Linked DNA regions of Homo sapiens. The protein of the gene in region 1 purifies or fractionates together with the protein of each later gene. This does not show direct contact. Each region holds a gene or a part of one and is shown in the gene's direction. Other genes may lie near its edges.

Evidence for each region.
Region 2: the proteins of POLDIP3 (region 1) and KDM4A purify together in Homo sapiens (affinity purification with mass spectrometry; one large-scale study listed by BioGRID and IntAct). This does not show direct contact.

The regions. Positions count from the first base shown.
Region 1 is NC_000022.11:42,608,148-42,611,957, reverse strand, and holds part of POLDIP3 (polymerase delta-interacting protein 3), read left to right. Parts: exon of another isoform or gene 1-45; intron 46-2,995; exon of another isoform or gene 2,996-3,223; intron 3,224-3,810. UniProt on the Homo sapiens protein: Is involved in regulation of translation. Is preferentially associated with CBC-bound spliced mRNA-protein complexes during the pioneer round of mRNA translation. Contributes to enhanced translational efficiency of spliced over nonspliced mRNAs.
Region 2 is NC_000001.11:43,667,063-43,670,872, forward strand, and holds part of KDM4A (lysine-specific demethylase 4A), read left to right. Parts: coding exon 1-29; exon of another isoform or gene 30-50; intron 51-681; exon of another isoform or gene 682-709; coding exon 710-957; intron 958-2,037; coding exon 2,038-2,237; intron 2,238-3,810. UniProt on the Homo sapiens protein: Histone demethylase that specifically demethylates 'Lys-9' and 'Lys-36' residues of histone H3, thereby playing a central role in histone code. Does not demethylate histone H3 'Lys-4', H3 'Lys-27' nor H4 'Lys-20'.

The DNA.
Region 1 (3,810 bases):
GTGAAAGATCTGAACAAATTCAATGAACAGATGTCATTTCCTGCAGTAAGTTTATTTTTATTTTATTTCTTTATTTTTTTTGAGATGGAGTCTCACTCTGTTGCCCAGGCTGGAGTGCAATGGCATGATCTCAGCTCAGTGCAACCTCTGGCTTCCAGGTTCAAGCGATTCTCCTGCCTCAGCCTCCCAAGTAGCTGGGACCATAGGCATGCGCCACCACGCCTGGTTAATTTTTTTGTATTTTTAGTAGAGGTGGGGTTTCACCATGTTGGTCAGGCTGGTCTTGAATTCCTGACCTCAAACGATCCACCCGTCTCAGCCTCCCAAAGTGCCACCGTGCCTGGCCATACATGCTATTTTACATACTGCCTAGAAGAATCTGCGTACTTGGAACTTTGGTTTTAATGTTGCATGGATATTCCAGGAAGAATTTTGTTGTTTAAGAAAGCTTTTTTCCTCTTAGTAGAAATAGCCAAAGATCCAGCTTGTGGAAGTGTAAATAACCTCTTTCCCCACCACTCTGCTCACTTTGTTTCCTGTGATCCCAAGGATCACATTTGTGGAATGTGCTTGTTCTCAAAAGCAGCCATTCTGTTTTGTGTTCCTCACACCTTGTGAGTCAAGAAAAGGGTCATAGCTGGATGCAGTGGTTGCTCATGCCTGTAACTGCAGCTGTGTGGGAGGCTAAGGCAGGAGGATTGCCTGAGTTCAAGGCTGCAGTGAGCCATGCTTGCACCACTGCACCCCAGTCTGGTTGACGGAGCAAGACCTCATCTCTTTAAAAAAGAAAGAAAAAAGTCATTACCATTATTATTACCTAGGCCTCCAATTAATTATTAAAAGATTCCTTGACTAATGGGAAATGATTGAACCAGAAGAGGGTGGTTTTGAGTGATACCTTCCTCCATGGTGAGGTGCTATCTTTCCTCACCACAGCACATCTCCAGTGACTTTAGTTGTGAAAGATCCGTAGAGAGTCTCCTCAGGATAGCATTAGGTACCAGTTGCAGTGCTGGCCTGCCCCTCATGTTGGTTTTTTCCTTTATTTATTTGAGACAGGATCTTGCTCTGTCATCCAGGCTGGAGTGCAGTGGCAAGATCACAGCTCACTCCAACCTCTGCCTCCTGGGCTTAAGCAGTCTTCCTGCCTCAGCCTACCAGGTAGCTGGGACCACAGGCATATGCCATCATGCCTGGCTAATTATTTTTGTATTTTCTGTAGAGACAAGGTCTCGCCATGTTGCCCAGGCTGGTTTCGAACTCCTGGACTCAAGCAGTCCTCCTGCCTCTGCCTCACAAAGTGCTGGGGTTACAGGTGTGAGCCACTGTGCCCAGCAGTTTCTTCCTTTAGATATGAGGGCATCCCCAGTTAAGTCAGTTGACATGTCCGCTTTTGTTAGTTCGATGAGTTTAACCCTCAGCGGATAGCTTTCTGTCAGCTGCCTCCAAGCAGTTCAGTGTGGCAGCCTTGAATGTGCTGGAGGCTGGAGTTGAGCAGCTCTCTGGGCCAGACGCCTCATCTGGGGAGTCCTTGGAGCTGGAAGTGGGAGGTTGTTGGGGGACAGGGTGGATTGTAAACTTTGCAGTTCAGCCCAGGACTCTGGTCCTGGTACTGACTGCTTGTTTCCTTGTTGAAATAAGATAAAGGAAATAAAGACCTAAACACAAAAGGGAGGAAATGAGTTATTACATAACTCTAGGGAACGAATTATGTTTTAAAATGAAACATCTGCACAAGACTCTTGGGTAAGGGGATAGTATTTTATTTTATTTATTTATTTTTGAGACAGAGTTTTGCTCTTGCTGCCCAGGCTGGAGTGCAATGGCGCGATCTCAGCTCACCGAAACCTCCACCTCCTGGATTCAAACGATTCTCCTGCCTCAGCCTCCTGAGTAGCTGGGACTACAGGCATGGGCCACTACGCCCGGCTAATTTTTTGTATTTTTAGTAGAGACAGGGTTTCACCATGTTGGCCAGGCTGGTCTCAAACTCCTGACCTCAAGTGATCCGCCCATCTCAGCCTCCCAAAGTGCTTGGGATTACAGGCGTGAGCCACCTCGCCCAGCAGGGGATAGTATTTTAGTGTCTTGTTTTTCTTTGTGTCTCTTAAACACCTAATTCAGAGTTGACCCTCAGTCATAGTTAGAATTAAGCTGTTTTCTCTCTATAAAAATGACCTAAACACACACCTAAACGAACACCCCCTAACCCAGAAGCTTTTTTTGTTTGTTTTTATAAGACGGAATCTTGCTCTGTCACCCAGGCTGGAGTGCAGTGGTGCGATCTTGGCTCATGGCAACCTCTGCCTCCCATAACCCAGAGGATTTTAAACCCATGGGTTAAAATCTGCTTTATAATAATCCAGGGCCCCACTTCATGGGCCTGAATCTTTTGGACTGGACATCTGTCCAGAATGGGCTGTAGCCCTGCCCTCCCCAGACAGAGCCAGGAGGGTGAAATATTCCTATAGCCCAGACAGACCCTCCCTGGTCATCACACCTATGCCAGGTTCCCGTAGGGGGTATAGAGGAGAGAATTTGGGGTCCAGGGAACGTTTGCCTTCTCACCTGCCAGCAGCGCTCTTGCCAGGACCTCGCGGAATACCTGGTGAAGCCCTGGAAGCAGTTGCAGAGCTGTAGTTTCGGTGCGATGGAGGTGGGGCATTACGAGACTCAGTCAAAACCTTCCTCCTTCGCCCTCCCAAACATTTACTGAGGATAAAAGTGCAGGATGTGTTTTGGGAACGTCAGTAGTCACTGCAGTGGGGAGTAAGGCTGCAGCCATAAGCTGGAGCCAGAGCCGAGGCCCCCCCAGGGGTTGGGCTTTGTAAAGGAGCCCCCAGCAGTTCTAGAAGCGGGAGGGTAACATAATTGAGTCTGTGTTTTAGAGACCTACCCCTGGCAGGAGTGTTGATTTGAAAAATTTCCGATGACTAATGCCTGCCTGAAACCAGTACTGCTGCCTGCTGGGATGAATAGCTGTCTTTTCATGCAGGAAGAGCAGCTGTGATTATAAAAAGCCTGAACACTGAAGCCCCCTCAAGCTGTTCACGAAAGAAGTTGAAAGCACTGGTGGAACCAGGGAACTGAGTGCATCAGATTGAGGGAAATAGCTTACTCCCTCCCACCGTGAGGAGCTCCTACTACATCCTCAACTACCGTTAACTCCCACCCCTAAATGTGCCTTTTAGGCTGTTCAAATAGATAAAAATGCCAGCACAAAGCATCTTGGTGGTCCTTCCTGCCAGGCAGGCATTGTGGTATGCGAGTTCTCAGTGCGTGCACCACCCGCTCGCCTCGCTGCTTGTGCTCACCCTTTGGTCGCTAGAGAGTGCTCCGTATCCCTGGGCATGACCGGAGTCCTAAGATTTCTTCAGCCTGCGGACTGTTTATCCTTCCTTTATATATATGTATAAATTTTTAAGGGTTTAACAACATATTGAAACTGAAATACCAGACAATAATGATAAGGAAGATTGTTTCTTTTTGTTTTGGTGGTGGTGGTTTTTTTTTGTTTTGTTTTGTTTTGATTTTTGAGACAGGGTCTTGTTCTGTCTCCCAGGCTGGAGTCCAGTGGTGTGATCTTGGCTCACTGCAGCCTGGACCTCCTGGGCTTAGTTGATCCTCCTGCCTTGGCCTTCTGAGTAGCTGGGACTACAGATGTGCATCATCACTTGCAGCTAATTTTTTTTTGGGGGGGGGGGTAAGGTTATAGATTAACAGCATCCCAAGGCAGAAGAATTTTTCTTAGTACAGAACAAAATGAAGTCTCCCACGTCTACTTCTTTCTACACAGACACAGTAACAATC
Region 2 (3,810 bases), on another chromosome or scaffold:
GGATTGAGTACGGCAAGCAAGCTGTGCTGGTAAGTCTGCTTGATTTCTTTCTATAACACCATGACAAAAATGAGCAAATTCTGGTTAGATACGTTGGCTGGTGATTAGAGTATTTCTTTGAGCTGCTGGAATTCAGAAACAAGCAGCTAGCAATGTGTCAGAGTACTAACATTTTGTGTTCATAAGGAATTTTTAAAAATGTGTTCAGAATTGGGAAGTATAAAATGAGGTTCTTAAGTCCATTAGGCATTAAAACCACATCCACACACGTTAATACTCTTGTTTATCCATTCCGAGATTTCTCTGTTGAAATTTTTAGGGGTTTCCTTTACTCTAGGGAAGCAGCAGGGTCGGGCCTTTGACTGATAGTAGTAGACTTGCTTGTGTGTTCCTGGCTTGGACAGGGAACAAGGGCAGGTGGCTCACCGTCCTGGGGGCCTAAGTGCAGAGCCTAACCACCCTCTGTGACCCCGAGTTAGTGCCCAGGTAGATTTGCCCCAGTAGCATGTGCTCTCTGCCTTTTTTTCCCTGCTTCCCTTCATGTTTGAAGGTCCTGCAAGGATAACATGCCCTCAGCCTGTGAACCAAAACAATCTGGTTATAAACCATCTTGCACTTGTTTCCATGTGGAGGGAGGAGCTAGGACGTGGGGGTGAGTTGGAAGCAGCAAGGTATGCTCACCTGGTGCTCTTCTGGTTCCTGCTGACAGTGCTCCTGTAGAAAGGACATGGTGAAGATCTCCATGGATGTGTTTGTGAGAAAGTTCCAGCCAGAAAGGTACAAACTTTGGAAAGCTGGGAAGGACAACACAGTTATTGACCATACTCTGCCCACGCCAGAAGCAGCTGAGTTTCTTAAGGAGAGTGAACTGCCTCCAAGAGCTGGCAACGAGGAGGAGTGCCCAGAGGAGGACATGGAAGGGGTGGAGGATGGAGAGGAAGGAGACCTGAAGACAAGGTAACCCAGCAGCCCTTTTGTCCTGGCTGCGTGAGGGAGGGATGTCTGGGTAGGTCCTGTAATCTGTGGAGAGGCTGTTTCTTGTTTTTTTTGTTTTGTTTTGTTTTTGTTTTTGTTTTTGTTTTTGATGGAGTCTCGCTCTGTCGCCCAGGCTGGAGTGCAGTGGTGCGATCTCGGCTCACTGCAAGCCCCGCCTCCCGGGTTCAGGCCATTCTTCTGCCTCAGCCTCCCGAGTAGCTGGGACTACAGGCACCTACAGCCACGCCTGGCTAATTTTTTGTATTTTTAGTAGAGACAGGGTTTCACTGTGTTAGCCAGGACGGTCTCGATCTCCTGACCTCGTGATCCGCCCACCTCGGCCTCCCAAAGTGCTGGGATTACAGGTGTGAGCCACCGCGCCCGGCCGAGGCTGTTTCTAAGATGCCGTTTGTGCCTTGGCTAAGGGAGTGTTCTTGGTAAAGGCTCCAGAAACCTGAGAGCCAGAGCATTCAGGCACTTTCTGAATGAGAGACCTGTAGTGGGCGTGTAGTCTGCTGGAGCAAGGCGTCAGTTATATGAGGGTCGGGGGCATTTATGTGCGAAGGTCGGGCTCCCTCTGAGCCAGAAAAGTCATGTTTTCTCATCATATCAGAGAGTCTTTTAAAAAGAAGTGTAGTGAGGATGAGACTCAAGGGCATTGGTAATGTCGTGATTTAAGTCTGCAGTGCTATTGGTGGCTGAGCCAGGGGATCTGTGCTCTGAGGAGAATTTATCCTGGGCCATATGGGAAAGAAAGGAGGAACCGTTCCTTGGTACCTGCTATATGCCAGGCACTTTGCCAGCTACTCTGCATACCTTTTCTTAATCCTCACAACAAATCTGTTAGGTGGGTGGTAATACCTGTATTTTCCAGATGATTGAACAAGGTCAGAGAGGTGAAGTCCCTTGTCTCAAGTCACAAATAAGAGGTGTCCCTGAGTTTTGAGCCAGGCCTGACAGGCTCTGGCCATTCACTTTGGGTTGTGTGTGGATGTGTATGAATGTGTTTGAGTAAGTGGATGTATATGTGGGCTCTTAAAAGATTTGCCCTCTCCCTTGCAGCCTGGCCAAGCACCGAATAGGGACAAAGAGGCACCGAGTTTGTCTTGAAATACCACAGGAGGTGAGTCAGAGTGAGCTCTTCCCCAAGGAGGATCTGAGTTCTGAGCAGTATGAGATGACGGAGTGCCCGGCAGCCCTCGCCCCTGTGAGGCCCACCCATAGCTCTGTGCGGCAAGTTGAGGATGGTCTTACCTTCCCAGGTTAGTTGACTATGGTGTATTTTCCACAACCCTAACTCATATATGTGTCCCGTGTTAGATGCCATATTGAGTGCTGGGTCAGAAATAAAAAAGGCAGAGTGACAGGTCCGTGAGCAGATAGCATACTTGGAGTGTGAGAAGTGCTTTGGGTAGGGATGTACAGGGAGGACTGGACACGTAGGGAAAAGCTCCTCCCTCTGCCTGGTCAGGGGTCAGGGAAACACTGGAGGTTTTGGTGAAGGTGACTCTTACAAGGTAAGTAGGACCTTCCCAGGCGGACAGAGAGAGAGGAGGGATGTAGAAAGGGAGTCCCAGATGGGAGGAGCAGGGCACAGGCATGGAGATGGGAATTTTTTTTTTTTTTTTTGAAATGGAGTCTTGCTCTGTCATGCAGGCTGGAGTGCAGGGGCGCAATCTTGGCTCACTGCAACTTCTGCCTCCTGGGTTCAAGCGATTCTCCTGCCTCAGCCTTCCAACTAGCTAGGACTACAGGTGCCTGCCACCATGCCTGGCTAATTTTTTTTTGTATTTTTAGTAGCGATGGGGTTTCACCGTGTTGGCCAGGCTGATCTTGAACTCCTGACCTCAGGTGATCCGCCTGCCTCGGCCTCCCAAAATGCCAAGTGGGATTACAGGCGTGAGCCACTGTTCCCAGCAGAGATGGGAAATATTAATAGCATGGTCCACTTGGGGGAACTGGTGGGGAGTTTCCCTCAATTGAATATTAGGGTGGAAGGCAGCTGTGTGACCAGAAGGTGACGCTGGAGAAATAGGAGATGATGTAGGGCTGTCTGCCATTTTCATTTGCTCACTTGGAAGCTTAAGAAGCCATTTATATTTTAAGAGAGGGAGTGGTGTGATCAGTGCTGTTTAGCAGTCACTTGGAAGGTCATTGAGGCTAGATTTGTTAGAGAAAGGCTTGTATCTGTCTTGGGTCAGGTATGACCCAAAGATGTGGTCTGCCGACAGCCAGGCAGCACTGTGGACTGACACCCTGGGCTGGGCTGGCTTCTCTTCAGCAGATTTTCTTTCCCTTTTTTCTCTTCAAATTTATTTATTTATATTGACAGATAAAATCGTGCATATTTGTCTTGTACAACATAATTTTTTTGTTTGTTTTAGAAACGGGGTCTTACTGTGTTGCCCAAGCCTTTGTGAACACAGCTCACTGCAGCCTCAACTTTCTGGGCTCAAGCAATCCTCTTGCCTCAGCCTCTCAAGTAGGTGGGACTACAGGCATACACCACGCCTGGCTAATTTTTTTTTTTTTTTTTTTTTTTTTGAGACGGAGTCTCACTCTGTCTCCCAGGCTGGAGTGCAAAGGCATGATCTTGGCTCACTGCAACCTCCGCCTCCCGGGTTCAAGTGATTCTCCTACCTCAGCCTCCCAAGTAGCTGGGACTACAGATGCTTGCTACCACGCTGGCTGATTTTTGTATTTTTAGTAGAGACGGGGTTTCACTCTGTTAGCCAGGATGGTCTCGATCTCCTGACATCGTGATCCGCCCACCTCAGCCTCCCAAAGTGCTGGGATTACAGCAGTGAGCCACCATGCCTGGCCCATGCCTGGCTA